Homo sapiens: one gene and its partners. The protein of the gene in region 2 purifies or fractionates together with the protein of the main gene of each other region. This does not show direct contact. Each region holds a gene or a part of one and is shown on either strand. Other genes may lie near its edges.

The links.
Region 1: the proteins of OSGIN1 (region 2) and TUBA3E purify together in Homo sapiens (affinity purification with mass spectrometry; one large-scale study listed by BioGRID and IntAct). This does not show direct contact.
Region 3: the proteins of OSGIN1 (region 2) and RPS6KA6 purify together in Homo sapiens (affinity purification with mass spectrometry; 3 studies listed by BioGRID and IntAct, with this or other methods). This does not show direct contact.
Region 4: the proteins of OSGIN1 (region 2) and BTBD1 purify together in Homo sapiens (affinity purification with mass spectrometry; 3 studies listed by BioGRID and IntAct, with this or other methods). This does not show direct contact.

The regions. Positions count from the first base shown.
Region 1 is NC_000002.12:130,195,637-130,199,646, forward strand, and holds the start of TUBA3E (tubulin alpha-3E chain), read right to left. Parts: upstream 2,804-4,010; 5' UTR 2,725-2,803; coding exon 2,722-2,724; intron 736-2,721; coding exon 513-735; intron 1-512. UniProt on the Homo sapiens protein: Tubulin is the major constituent of microtubules, a cylinder consisting of laterally associated linear protofilaments composed of alpha- and beta-tubulin heterodimers.
Region 2 is NC_000016.10:83,959,681-83,963,247, forward strand, and holds part of OSGIN1 (oxidative stress-induced growth inhibitor 1), read left to right. Parts: intron 1-888; coding exon 889-1,080; intron 1,081-1,300; coding exon 1,301-1,392; intron 1,393-3,567. UniProt on the Homo sapiens protein: Monooxygenase catalytic activity. Involved in regulation of cytokinesis; promotes RHOA activity, probably acting locally at the midbody in late cytokinesis.
Region 3 is NC_000023.11:84,062,678-84,066,244, reverse strand, and holds part of RPS6KA6 (ribosomal protein S6 kinase alpha-6), read left to right. Parts: intron 1-1,133; coding exon 1,134-1,274; intron 1,275-1,842; coding exon 1,843-1,968; 3' UTR 1,969-3,567. UniProt on the Homo sapiens protein: Constitutively active serine/threonine-protein kinase that exhibits growth-factor-independent kinase activity and that may participate in p53/TP53-dependent cell growth arrest signaling and play an inhibitory role during embryogenesis.
Region 4 is NC_000015.10:83,039,701-83,043,267, forward strand, and holds part of BTBD1 (BTB/POZ domain-containing protein 1), read right to left. Parts: intron 2,226-3,567; coding exon 2,028-2,225; intron 1-2,027.

The DNA of each region.
Region 1 (4,010 bases), on a different chromosome or scaffold from region 2:
TCCCACAGGCTTTCAGGTGATGCTGTCATCTCCTGGGGGGCCACTGAAAGGTGCTGCCTCTTTGTAGCTCTCCTTGGAAACTACCTCAGGCTGCGAATCTGAAGGAAGCAAATGACTGTTCTGTACTTACCTTCTATGCCTAAGATGCAGGTCAAGACTCTCGTGCACCAGCATAAGAGAATGCACAGCATTCGGGAGGGAACCAATGCCACTGCACCCTGCAGGCAGGGCCACCTGAGCAGGGCTGAGGCAGCCATGAGGGAATCTCTTCACAGCCCATCTTACTGCTGGCAAAGCAGCTTTTCCCTGTAGGTCAGGTTTTCCTAAATTAGGAGCCGAGTCTCACAGACACTTTCATCACAAACCTTTCAGTTTCTCTCCTAACAATGCCATGGGCATATGCCTGTCTATCCCATCCTTTCAGCAGGAGGATTCAAAGGAGCCCACACGGGGCTTTACCAATGCTCTCCCACCCTCTCAGGAAAGCTGCCATCCAGTGCCCAGGCACCTACCGACCACAGTGGGCTCCAGGTCCACAAACACTGCTCTGGGCACGTGCTTGCCAGCTCCAGTCTCACTGAAGAACGTGTTGAAGGAGTCGTCCCCGCCACCAATGGTTTTATCACTTGGCATTTGACCATCGGGCTGAATTCCATGTTCAAGGCAGTACAGTTCCCAGCAGGCATTGCCGATCTGGACACCCGCCTGCCCCACGTGGATAGAGATACACTCGCGCTGTGAACCGGAACATAAATGTGAACCCATTCATTTCAAGGCAACTTGAAACTATATGGCATGCAAAATATTCTAATTTAATATTTATATAGTGCTTCAGTATCTGGCGCTTTCACAATCGATATTTCCTAGGAGGGTTAGTGACTGATCCCTTTATCGCTGTGAAAACTAATTGCTGTAAACCATACTAGCTAGTAAGTTCTAGAAGTAGCCCTAGAACCTGTTTGCCACTACACAAAACTTAGGTTATTTTAAAACTTGGAAGCCATTTAATGTCAATAATCAACCCCACATTATAGCCCGTCACAGTAATTCTCTGAAGAATAAGTAGCAGTTTTTGATTATGTCCTGATCAAAGGATAAGGTAGTCGGGTTGGGTAAGGAAATACAGAGTAGGTCCCAGGTCACCATGGTCCAAGCCCAGGTGCTCAGTGTGTGTCCTCTCTCTGCCCCCCAGTTCTACCCCGTCCATCATTCACCACCTGCTCTGTGCTCTCGAAGGCTGACCCTTGAGAACAGCATCAGAGGCCTTCCTCGCCCTCTGGCTTCTTGCTGGTTTGGTCAATGGCAGGCAGCAGTGGGATACTGGGGGGCTGGAGGAAAGCAGTGCCAGGGTACTCCCTCCTTGGCCCCTTCCTGCTCAACTGCTGTGGGTGACCTGAATCCCTCTCAAGGCTACACTTTTGGCAGGCTGCCCTCTTCATAAAACTACCCTCCTAATTTCTTGTAACCACGCCCTCTCTCTACCCCTTGAAGCCTACGGGTGTAATGGCTCCCAGACATCATCAGTGCTGGGACACTGCACTGTCCTTTGGTGGTTTCTTTAAACTCTGCCAAGCTGGGTGTGGTGGCTCATTCCTGTAATCCCAGCACTTTGGAAGGCTGAGGTGAGAGGATCACTTGGGACCAGTTTGAGACCAGCCTGGGTAACATAGTGAGTCCCTGTCCCTATGAAAAATTTACAAATTAGCCAGGTGTGGTGGCACACACCTGTAGTACCAGCTACTCGGAAGGCTGAGGCGGGAGGACTGCTGGAAGCCAGGGGTTCAAGGCTGCAGGGAGCCGTGATCTTGCAACTGTGTTCCAGCCTGGGCAACAGAGCATTTATTGAGTGCTGTCTCAAAAAAAAAAAAAAAAGAAAAGAAAAGAAAAAAGAAAAAGAAAGGAAAAAAAGGATAACTGACAAATCACAGCTATTCAGACTTGGGACTTGGGAATCTGTTATGTTAATGGGCTGCTTTTTTTGTTTGGTTTTTTGAGGCAGGGTCTCTGTGGCCCAGGCTGGAGTGCACTGGCGCCATCACGACTCACTGCAGCCTCAAAGTTCCAGGCTCGGCTGATCCTCCCACCTCAGCCTCCCGAGTAGCTGGAACCACAGACTCGCATCACCATGCCCGGGTAATTTTAGTATTTTTTTGTAGAGACTGGGTTTCGCCATGTTGGTCGGGCTGATCTTGAACTCCAGACATCAGGGGATCCGCCCGCCTCCACCTCCCCAAGGGCTGGGATTCCAGGCGTGAGCCGCCGCGCCTGGCCTAACGGTTGCCTTTAGGTGAACAAGGCAATGTTGCAGCAGCGTCTGAGCCTTAATTCCTCATCTGACCAATGTCCACAGCCCCAACCCCCGTCACCGAAGGCTCCTGCAGCTCCTCAGCTGTTTCCAGTAGCACAAAGACGTGTGAAGCGGGAGCAGCGCCCTCCTGTCTTCAGGAGGCGACGCCACTATTTGCTCTCTGGGGGACGGGATACCGTCAATGGTCCCCGTCCACTAAAGGCCGGCAGCTTCATCTAAAACAAAAGCCGCCGTCCCTGCCCTGGGACCTGCAGATCCAGGAAACGATCCCGTGTCCTCCTGTCCCGCACTAGACCCTGCGTCCTTCTCTGGCCTCCTCTCAGCGCCCAGGCCCGCAACAACGTCCCTCTGTCCACCCGAGGCCAACTTCGTCTGCCTGGGCATCTGCGGGGCGGGAGTGACCCGGGTCTTACCATGGCGAACTCCGCTGCTTCAGCCCAACGCTACTTCCAGACCTCAACCGGCTGCCACAGCTGCTGAGCGCCCAACTGCAATGACCTGCCCACGCGCGCCGCACAGGATTGGCCTGCCGGTGCCAGGCCGCCATTGGCTCGGAGTTCCTGGGAGGCAGGCCGAGGGCCGGATCCCAGTTCTGATTGGCCGTTGCTCAACACGTGTAGTGGGGATGCTCTCTGATTGGATGCAGGATTGGCGGGAAGGCAGCGGGGTCATCAAAGGCTGCGCGGTTGCTGAGGCATTTCCGGGGTGTCTTCCGACCAGGATTGGAACAGCTACTGCGCTGCCTCTGTGGGTCGCGGAACATTGCCTTGCTCCCAGTGTGCCACTGCCCCTCCCTGATTGCCCCAGGCCTGCTCCTCTCCCTGCCTAATTCAGATCTTTGCAAACAAGGCCACCTCTGAGAGGCCTTGCCGCCATCTACCCAAGTCACAGCAGCACCGCAATTATCCCCCTCTTCCCTGTTCCCACCCAGCACCCGGGAAGTGGCAGGATTCAATCACTTTTCTGACCCAAAGGGAGAAAACGGGCCGGGCGCGATGGCTAACGCCTGCAATCCCAGCACTTCGGGAGGCCGAGGCGGGTGGATCACTTGAGGTCAAGAGTTCCCGAGACCAGCCTGGCCAATATGGTGAAAACCCATCTCTACTAAAAACACAAAAATTACCCTGGCTGGTGGTAGGCACCTGTAATCCCAGCTACACGGGAGGCTGAGGTAGGAGAATCGCTTGAAACTGGGAGGCAGTTGTTGCAGTGAGCCGAGATTGGGCCACAGCACACTCCAGCCTGGGCAACAGAGCCAGACTCTGTCTCAAAAAAAAAAGGAAGAAAGGAGGCAAAATTAACGTAAGTGGAGAGGTTGGGCCAGGCACACCAGCTCATGCCTGTAATTCCAGTGCTTTGGGAGGCCACGGCAGGAGGATTGCTTCAGGTCAGGAGTTCGAGACCAGCCTGGGCAACGTGGTGAGTCCCACCTTGCCCGTTTCTACAAAAAATAAAATTAGCAAGGCATGGTGGCATGCGCCTGTAATCCCAGCTACTCAGGAGGCTGAGGCAGGAGAATCCCTTGAACCCGGGAGGCAGAGGTTACAGTGAGCTGAGATCACGCCACTGCACTCAAGCCTGGGTGACAGAGCAAAACTCCATCTTGAAAAAAAAAATAGTTTATTTGGGCCAAGTTTGAGAAGTGCAACCCTGGAGATGCAAGTTGTCTTAAAATATTAGCAGCAGTTATAAGTGGGTTTTT
Region 2 (3,567 bases):
TCATGGCAGGGTGACGGTACTACCAAATCTAGCAGGGTGGAGGCCAGGGATGCTGGCAAACATCCAGCACTGCACAGGACAACGAGGGTGGTGAGACTGAAATATGTGTGGTGGAGCTTCTCAACCTTGGCCCCACTGACATTTGGATGACTTTGTTCTGGCTACAAAGAATGATCTGGCTCAAATGTCAGTGCGGCCAAGGTTGAGAAACTCCACCACAGATATTTCAGTCCCACTACCTCCTGCCCACAAGGGTTTGCAAATCCTCCCTCCGTACCCCTTGTCTTCCACTGTGCTCCTCCACGACCTCCCCTTGTCGACCTCCCTCGTCAGGCAGTGTACATCCTCCTGTTCCCTTCCCGCCCCTGAGTTGGAGATGAGGAAATAGGTCTTGACCATTTGATCTAGATCAGCATTTTTCAAAGTGCTCTCTATAGAATACTAGTTCCTCAGTATAATATAGAGAGAAAAATGTCCCCACTCCAGTAAAACAGGGACACACTGGGTTTGGCAAAATTAAACAGGTAAATGATGGCTGCAGGACTTGTCAGAGCCTTTAATATGCCCGTCTGTGTTATCTGCTGTTAAGAGGCAGCACCTCCCAAGCTGATCTGACCACACTGATATTAGGGTAGGGATGTAGGACCAGGCAATCGCTCCAGTCTCACCCAAGCTTGCGCATTTGGTCTGTACTCTGGGGCCCTTGGCCTCCTAGAAAGACCTCAAAACGAGAGCTTCAAACTACCCCCAGGGTGCGCATCTCTCTGAGACCCTCCAGTGCCAGGGAAATGGCCCGGCCCCAGTCCCCACGTTCCTGCCCAGCCTCAGGCTCTGGGAAGACGACCCCGCCCTCCTCCAGCAGCCCCTCTGACCTATGCCCCCCTCCAGGACCTGGACTACCTGTCCGAAGGCCTCGAAGGCCGATCCCAAAGCCCCGTGGCCCTGCTCTTTGATGCCCTTCTACGCCCAGACACAGACTTTGGGGGAAACATGAAGTCGGTCCTCACCTGGAAGCACCGGAAGGAGCACGCCATCCCCCACGTGGTTCTGGGCCGGAACCTCCCCGGGGGAGCCTGGCACGTGAGTGGGGCAGCGAGGGCATGGCTTGTGGGGGGCTCTCTCCCTCGTTCTCCCCACTTGGGGCTGGGACTCTGGCATCTCCCTTTCCTCATTCTCCACCCCGCAACCCTGCCTCTCCCTCCTCCCTCTACCCAGCCCCAGCAAAGGCCTCCCATGCCCTCTAGCCCCAAATGGGTTCAGGCGAGCAGAGGCCTGGACCAAAGGGTTCCTTTCCCTGCAGTCCATCGAAGGCTCCATGGTGATCCTGAGCCAAGGCCAGTGGATGGGGCTCCCGGACCTGGAGGTCAAGGACTGGATGCAGAAGAAGCGAAGGTGAGGCCGCCCCGGAACGCCTTGGGGGACACGGAAGGTTGGGCCTGTGAACCCAGAAAATCTGAGACAGGTCTCAGTTAATTTAGAAAGTTTATTTTTCCAAGGTTGAGGACGCGCCCGTGACAGCCTCAGGAAGTCCTAATGACATGTGCCCAAGGTGATCCGGCACAGCTTGGTTTTATACATTTTAGGGAGACATGAGACATCAATCAATATTTGTAAGAAGTACATTGGTTCGGTCTGGAAAGCTGGGCCAGCTTGAAGCAAAGGCAGGAAGTGGGGAGGGGGCTTCCAGGTCGCAGGTAGGTGAGAGATAAACAGTTGCATTCTTTTGAGGTTCTGATGAGCCTCTCCAAATGAGGCGATCAGATACGCATCTATCTCAGGGAGCAGAGGGGTGACTTGGAATGGAATGGGAGGCAGGGTGGCCCTCAGCAGTTCTCAGCTTGACTTTTCCCTTTAGCTTAGTGATTTGGGGGATTTCACAGGCCCCCCACAGTGAGCCCGTGAGCCAGAGGTACAGGGGCTTCAGAGTGCATCTGGTCTGTCTTCCTCTTCTTCCAGAGGGGGAAACTGAGGCTCAGATAGGGAAAGGACTTGTCCACCCCACATGAGTGGGGGTGAGCAGCAGAGCTGGGCTCACCCGAGGACCCCCTGTCCCGTGCAAGCAGCAGACCGCCCTGTCACATGGCCCCCAACTGGGCCTCCCCATAGTGCCCCAGCCTCTAAGGAGGGGGTAACACCTGGCCCCTGAGCCCCACGCCCTGCCCCGTGCCTCTGGCACAGGTCCCCCAGTCCTTGTGGTCTCCCTTCAGCCCTTTCCTCTATTCTGAGCCTGGCCTAGAACAATCTTTCTGGGTCAGCTAATAGGGTGACTTTCTTTTTTCTTTTCTTTTTTTTTTTTTTAATGCTTTTGCTACAGGTGAGTTTCATCCTTAACCATGAGCCCCCAAGTTGGGTAAATTAACTCACCTAAGGTCATGCAGGTTATTGGAAATGCAGAAGGAAAACAGCTCACCCCAAACCCACACTTCTCCACGCCCTTTCACTCCTGGGGTATTTTTTCCCCATCTGGCTTCCTGCCCCATCATGGCCACCCTAGAGAAAAGGTTTGTGAACCCTGAATATTTGAGATGGGTCTCAGTTAATTTAGGAAGTTTTGTTTGTTTATTTGTTGTTTGTTTTTAATGAAGTCTCCCTCTGTCGCCCAGGCTGGAGTGCAGTGGCGCGATCTCAGCTCACTGCAAGCTCCGCCTCCCAGGTTCAAGCCATTCTCCTGCCCCAGCCTCCCGAGTAGCTGGGACTACAGGTGCCCACCACCACACCCGGCTAATTATTTTTTGTATTTTTAGTAGAGACGGGGTTTCACCGTGTTAGCCAGGATGGTCTCGATCTCCTGATCTCGTGATCCGCCCACCTCGGCCTCCCAAAGTGCTGGGATTACAGGCGTGAGCCACCACGCCAGGCTAATTTAGGAAGTTTAATTGCCAAGGTTGAAGACGCACAACCATGACACAGCCTCAGGAGGTCCTGATAACATGTACACATGGTGGTCGGGGCACAGCCTGGCTGTATACGTTAGGGAGACTTGAGACATCAATCACTATATGTAAGATGGACATTGGTTCCGTCCAGAGGCGGGACAACTCCAGCAGGGAGGGGTGTTTCCAGGTCTCAGACAGGTGAGAGACAAACGGTTGCATTCTTTCGAGTTTCTTATAAGCCTTTCCAAAGGAGGCAATCAGGTGTGCATTTATCTCAGTGGGCAGAGGGAAGACTTTGAGTAGGACGGGAGGCAGCTTTGCCCTAGGCAGTTCCCTGCTTGACTTTTCCTTTAACTTAGTGATTTGGGGGCCCCAAGATTGATTTGCCTCTCACAGTTTCAATCACTGAATAAAGGAGTTCTAGTCCCTGCTCCTCCTGGGGTGCATCCACTCAATGAGAAGCTGCCCCAGCGCAGATACCTGGGTGCAGTCTGCCTCTCGGGAAGCCCTGCTTCCTCCGCCCCCAGGGCTGTGACCAGGCCTGTGTCCCCAACGGCAGGCACTCCAGGCGTCCCCCTCCAGGCCTCACTATCTCTTTGATGCGAAGACTCTTCTGCATGTTTGGCAGGAAGACTTCCAGGTTTGTGTAGCTACATGTTAGTAGGCAGCCAGAAACTTACATTTCGCTTGT
Region 3 (3,567 bases), on a different chromosome or scaffold from region 2:
TTCCAGGCACCACTGGGTTACGAAAAAAAAAAAAAAAACTGCAGCTAGCTCACTGTCTGCCCAAATTGTCTCCCAGTTTTATCCTTGAAACCCAGGACCCTGGTGGTGTAGGCACACCAGGGAATCTCCTGATTTGTGGATTGCAAAAACCATGGGAAAAGTGTAGTATCTGGGCTGGGTAGCACAGTCCCTCACAGCTTTGCTTGGCTGAGGGAGAGAGGTCCCCTGGCTCCTTGCACTTCTCATGTTGGGCGATGCCCCACCCTACTTCTGCTCACCCTCCGTGAGTTGGACCCACTGGCTAACCAGTCCCAGTGAGACGAACTGGGTACCTCAGTTGTAAATGGAGAAATCACCCACCTTCTGCTTTGGTCTCACTGGGAGCTGCTGACCGGAGCTGTTATTCGGCCATCTTGCCAGATTCTCCGAAAATGCTTATTAAGGAGTTTACTTCTCATTTCTCTAAAAGATACTTGGGAGAGACAGTTTATTTAAAAGTATTACATCTCTTAATATATTGAAAACTTTTCCTGTGAGGTTATATTAAATTTACAACTTTTTTAATTGCAACAGAGATAACATAAGCAAACGTACACTTACTTTGATGAAAAACTTAAAATGCACTGGGGACTACTATGATAGAAGCCACTTGCTAACATTGGATTTATGGTTTGCTTTCTTAATATGTTATATAGTAAGCCACCATTTATTGAATGGATTAACTACATGGGACCCTCCCTTCTATGTTTTATCTGTGTACACATACCCTTACACCTTGGGGCCCAGCTTAACAGCAAAGTTCAATAGCTCCTGTCTCCTGCTGAACATTTAGCATATTCCAGGATAACTTCTGCCATTTTACATTTTCCTCCTCCGTCACTAATCACACATCCAATTCCACAGATTTGGCATCTTCCGATTTAAAAGTGGTGTATAAGGATTTAGTATATATTGAAAAATATCTCTCAAGATTCTCTTGAGAGTTAACTGTGTAGAGTATAGATTTTACTTTGCATAAATGTAGGTGAAATAAACAGATTGCAAGGCTATTGATGCTGTCACATTTTCAGCAAATGTAAAATTATGTATGTATACATGTATATATATATACACACACATTTTTTTTAATTTAGGATTTGCTTTCCCATATGCTTCATATGGACCCACATCAGCGGTATACTGCTGAACAAATATTAAAGCACTCATGGATAACTCACAGAGACCAGTTGCCAAATGATCAGCCAAAGAGAAATGATGTGTCACATGTTGTTAAGGTAAAACAAACATACTTTTATGTGCCTTCGAGATATCAGATACCTAATAAACCCATTGTGTGCCACTTGCTGATGACACTTAAATAATTCCTTAAAATATCTTTATTTTTTAAAGATAGATTTTTTTAAATTAACAACCATGTACTTTTCTTAGCTTACTTTACTACTGCCTTTCAGATGAAACAATAAAAATTTCTTGATTGTACCTGCCGTGCTTTTGAGAGATGCTGGAATTAGGATTGGGCTAAATGCAAGTTTCATATTGAAATAAAAGATTGCTGTTAGTTCTTAATTTATAACTGTTCGTGAAACCATTCCTATATCCATATACATTGAATCAAGGTTTTAAATGTTAGTGTTTTAACAATTTTTTGTAAAAAGCATAGTTATTGAAATGAAAAACATACAAGTAATATTGATTCATCAGTGCACAGATCTAATATATTCAATTATTTTCCTAGGAAAACATTTTGTTCTAGATATATGTCTCATGATATCATGTGAAAGTTTTTTTTTTTTTTAACTCCAGAATTTGTACTTAGTTTGTGGCATTTTCTCATTACTTTAGGGAGCAATGGTTGCAACATACTCTGCCCTGACTCACAAGACCTTTCAACCAGTCCTAGAGCCTGTAGCTGCTTCAAGCTTAGCCCAGCGACGGAGCATGAAAAAGCGAACATCAACTGGCCTGTAAGATTTGTGGTGTTCCTAGGCCAAACTGGATGAAGATGAAATTAAATGTGTGGCTTTTTTCCTATTCTTATCAAAGGCATCGTTGTCTGCTAAATTACTTGAATATTAAGTAATATTAAATCCCCATTTTTAGGGGAAGTGAGATTTAAAAAACCATTCACAGGTCCACAATATTCATACTATGTGTTTGCAGTAGTGTTCAAGTGTTTATTTAAGCATATAATTGGTGTCCACCAGGTCCTCACAACTTCTCTGCACACAAGCTTCTAAAATTCCTTTCAAATAAAGTTACTTTAATATTTTTTTTCTTGTTTCATACAATTATGGTTTGGGGAGTCATTACCAACAATCAGTATACATATATAATAGTATAATGACAAGCAATGTTAGTATTTTTAAACATCAGATCCTGAAGGATAGGCTTTTTCTAATGAAAGAAAAACAACAAAAACTTATTATAAAAGCTTGTTATTCCGTAAAACCAAAGGACTCCATTCATTTGACTCACTGTAGTTACTAAAATGTAAACATAGTGGTTTGGTGCCAGAGCAAAATACATTTGTGCTAATATATGAATTCTTGATATAGTTGGTGCCAAAGTTTTTATAGAAGAATTATATCTCAGATAATGTGTGCAGGCAGATCTGTATATTATCCATAATAAGTGGCCTCATTTAGAAATAAAGGTTTTTATAAGGCTTCTGTAAATTTTACATCATGGAAATTTAGTACAAGTGAAACTTTTTTTTTTTCCAAAGGCTTTATACTGTTGGTGTAATCTTATAAATAGGTCATAGTTAAGCCTTTGAAAATGAAGTATGTGGTGTTGACACTATCCTGGTGTTATATAAACTGACTTTCAAGTTAACCAATTGGATTGTAATCATCATCTATCCCCTTTATAAATGAACTACACTGTTGTTTTTCTGACTTCGATGTGCTTTGAAGTACAGTGTAGCATATCATTCTACCTTGAATCCTATGATAATACAGTTGACATCTTGCTGTAGTGGACTTGTGCATATAGCACACATGATATAGTATATTGTATTACAGTAAACTTTAGACAATGCTACTTAATCATTTTACTTCATGAAGATAAACTAACATTTTAAATATGAATAATATTAATGGTCTACAAAAAATTTGAGCACATTTTAAAATCATATTTATAAAAAACTGGCCAAATTGGTCTTATTTAATGTATAATTCAGAACCACTGTGTAGTATGTATTCTTTTCTCTAAATGATGAAATGCTAAAGAATCATTTCACGTTGTTGAAGAAAATACCGTTGCTACAACAACAGCAGCAGCTACTACTGCTACTACTACTACTACTACTACTACTACTACTACTACTGACAGAAAGAATTCATGAATGTAAACTGGAGGATATCACAGTTTTCTTTAGTGAATATAAGTGAACTACTTGTGCGTGTTAGGTGTACTATTTGCTATGTATTTTATTTTGCTTTATTCAGAGAGAAAGTTGATTACTGAGTGCTGAATTATACAATTTAGGCTAGGAAACTCGTAACTTTGGTATTTAATAAAAGAAACTATACATATTCTGTTTGTAATGTAAATAATCTATACCCC
Region 4 (3,567 bases), on a different chromosome or scaffold from region 2:
CCAGGAGGTGGAAGTTGCAGTGAGCTAAGATTGTACCACTGTACTCCAGCCTGGGTGACAGAGTGAGGCTCTGTCTCAAAAAAAAAAAAAAAAACCACAAACAACCTCCCAAAAAAACCAAAAAACATAGAACTACCAGTCAACCCAGCAATCCCATTACTGGTTATATATCCAAAAGAAAAGAAAATGTTCCACCAAAAGACACATGCACTCATATGTTCATCACAGCAACGACACTGACTCAACCTGGGTGCCCATCAGTGGTAGACTGGGTAGAGAATGTGACACACACACACACACACACACACACACACACGGACACACACACACCACAGAATACTATAAAGCCATAAAAAAGAACAAAATCATGCCTTTCGCAGCAACATGGATGCAGCTAGAAGCCATTATCTTAAGTGAGTTAATGCAGAAACAGTAAACCAAATACCGTATGTTCTCACTTGTGGAAGCTAAACATTGGATACACATGGACATAAAGATGGAAACAATAAGCACTGAGGACTGTTAAAAAGGGGAAAAGAGGAAGGGACAGAAGGGGGAAAAGAGTTAAAAAACTAACTACTGGACACTATGCTCACTGCCTAAGTGATGCAATCAACTGTACCTCAAACTTCAGCATCACACAATATACACATGAAACAAATCTGCACGTTACCCCGAATTTAAAATAAAAGTTGAAATTATTTTTTAAAAAATCATGAGAGCTAGGCACAGTGGCTCATGCCTATAATCCCAGCACTTTGGGAGCCCGAGGTGGGCAGATCACCTGAGGTCAGGAGTTCAAGACCAGCTTGACAAATATGGTGAAACTCTGTCTCTACTAAAAATACAAAAATTAGTTTGTGGCGGTGCACGCCTGTAATCCCAGCTACTCAGGAGGCTGAGGTGTGAGAATCGCTTGAACCCAGGAGATGGACGTTGCGGTGAGCTGAGATCGCACGACCGCACTCCAGCCTGAGCAACAGAGGGAGACCCTGTCTCAAAAAAAAAAAAAAAAAAAAAACCATGAGACTTTTCTTTCTTTTGAATCAATCTGGCCGTGATTTAAAGGCAGATAATAGTCAATTATGACCTGGGTAATGAAAACAGGTCAGAAGTGGTCATGGAGACTCAAAACAGATCTGTCTGATTTTAATCAGAAGCATCGACCTTAAGAGTCAAACAGAGGCTGGGCGTGGTGGCTTACACCTGTAATCCCAGCACTTTGGGAGGCTTGAGCCCAGGAGTTCAAGACCAGCCCTGACAGGATGGTGAAATCCTGTCTCTATAAAAAAAATTAAAAAATTAGCTGAGCATGGTAGTGTGCACCTATAGTCCCTGCTATTTGGGAGGCTGAGGTGGGAGGATTGATTGAGCCTGGGAGGTGGAGGCTTCAGTGAAATGCGTTTGTGCCACGGCACTCCAGCCTGGGTAACAGAGGAAGACTCTGTCTCAAAAAAAGAAAAAAAAGAAAAAAAAAAAAAGCCAAAAAGATCTGTCATAACCTGGGGTAAGGCACTCAACCTCTCCCAACTTTACTTCTCTAACCTATACAATGTGGATAATATAATTTTGAAGGGCTTAAAATCATACACTCGCATATATGTTTGTCATGTGATTAGTACTGAATAAAAGCTTCTTTTCCTCTCTGGCGCAGGGAGACTGATAGAATTTTTTTTTTTTTTTGAGATGGAGTCTCGTGGAATCTCGCTCTGTCGCCCGGGCTGGAATGCAACGGCATGATCTCGGCTCACTGCAACCTCCGTCTCCTGGGTTCAAGCGATTCTCCTGCCTCAGCCTCCTGAGTAGCTGAGATTACAGGTGCCCACCACCATGCCTAATTTTTTGTACTTTTAGTAGAGACGGGGTTTTACCATGTTGACAAGGCTGGTGTCGAACTCCTGTCCTCAAGTGATCCACCTGCCTTGGCCTCTCGAAAGTGCTGGGATTATAGGTGTGAGCCACCAGGCCCAGCCCTGACAGACTATTAAAACAGTTTCAAATAGATTTTGGTGAATTTATACCCTTACCTGCTGCAAATTCCTCAATTGTCATCAGTGGGAACCGGATTAAGGAAAGTGCTTTTCCTAGAACTTTTTGTTTATTCCCAAAAGTCACAGGTAATTGTTGTCTCTGACATTCTGCTTCTGCCCAGCGTACAACAGCTCCAAAAAGTCGACTTTCTCGAATACTGAGTGTGTCTCTCTCTAAAACTGCACAGAGTGTATCTATAGGCAAAATACAAAATAAACCCAATTAGAAATATTTTAGCTCTCTAACCAAGCAATACCAACAGACACACTTATATTAAGTTTTCAGATCTCAACAAAAAATAGGTTAGACACTTAAAACTACAGACTTTATACTTTAAAATACTAAATAATTAAAGGACTTAAACTCCAAAGTGTTCCATAAAAATCAGTTTAACAATCAATTTATTACTTACCATACATGCAATATTAAGATACAGTACTCTCCTTATATATTTATGCCATTTATCAAGTAAACTCAACTATCCAGAATAAGATTAACAAGCCACAGAAAAAGGTTCCAATTACATAAATTCTTAAAGTCTACAGATTATAATTCATTCGTTCATTCAGTAAATATTTATTATTAAGCACTACGTGCCAGGTACTATTAGGCAATTTTATATATATATATATATATATATATATATGTATGTATATATTTTGGATATAGAGTCATAGAGTCTCATTCTGTTGCTCAGGCTGGAGTGCAGAGGCACAATCTCGGCTCAATGCAACCTCTGCCTCCTAGGTTCAAGCAATTCTCCTGCCTCAGCCTCCTGGGTAGCTTGGATTACTGGCACGGGCCACCACACCTGGCTAATTTTTATATTTTTAGTAGAGACAGGGTTTCACCATGTTGGCCAGCCTGGTCTCAAACTTCCGACCTGAAGTGATCTGCCTGCCTCGGCCTTCCAAAGTGCTGGGATTACAGGCGTGAGCCACCGCGCCCAGCCAGCACTGATATATCACTGAACAAAAAGTTAAAAATTCCTGCCCTCATGGAGCTTACATTCTAATGAGGAGAAACAGATTAAATAAACACAAGTAAATTCGAGTATCTTAGATGATATACATGGGCAAATATGTCAGGTTAAGGAGAATCAGAAATGCAGTTTAAAATAGGAAGGGGCCAGGCATGGTGACCCATGCCAGTAGTCCCAGCAATTTAAGAGGCTGAGACAGGAGCATGGCTTGAGCCCAGGAGTTTCAGGCCAGCCTGGGCAATATAGTGAGACCCCATCTCTACAAAAAAGTTTTTAAAAATTAGCCAGGCATGGTGGCATGCACTTGTAGTCTCAGCTACTCAGGAGGCTGAGACAGCAGGATCACTCGAGCCTGGGAGGTTGCAGGCTGCAGTGAGCCATGATCATGCCATTGTACTCCAGCCCAGGCAACAGAGTGAGACTGTGCCAAAAAATAATAAAATAAAATAAAATCGGGTGGTTTAGGCAGGCTTCACTTATGCCAAGACATGAAGGAAGTGGGGGAGTAAGCCAAATAGATACCTAGAGGAATAGTATTCCAGGACTAAAAGTAC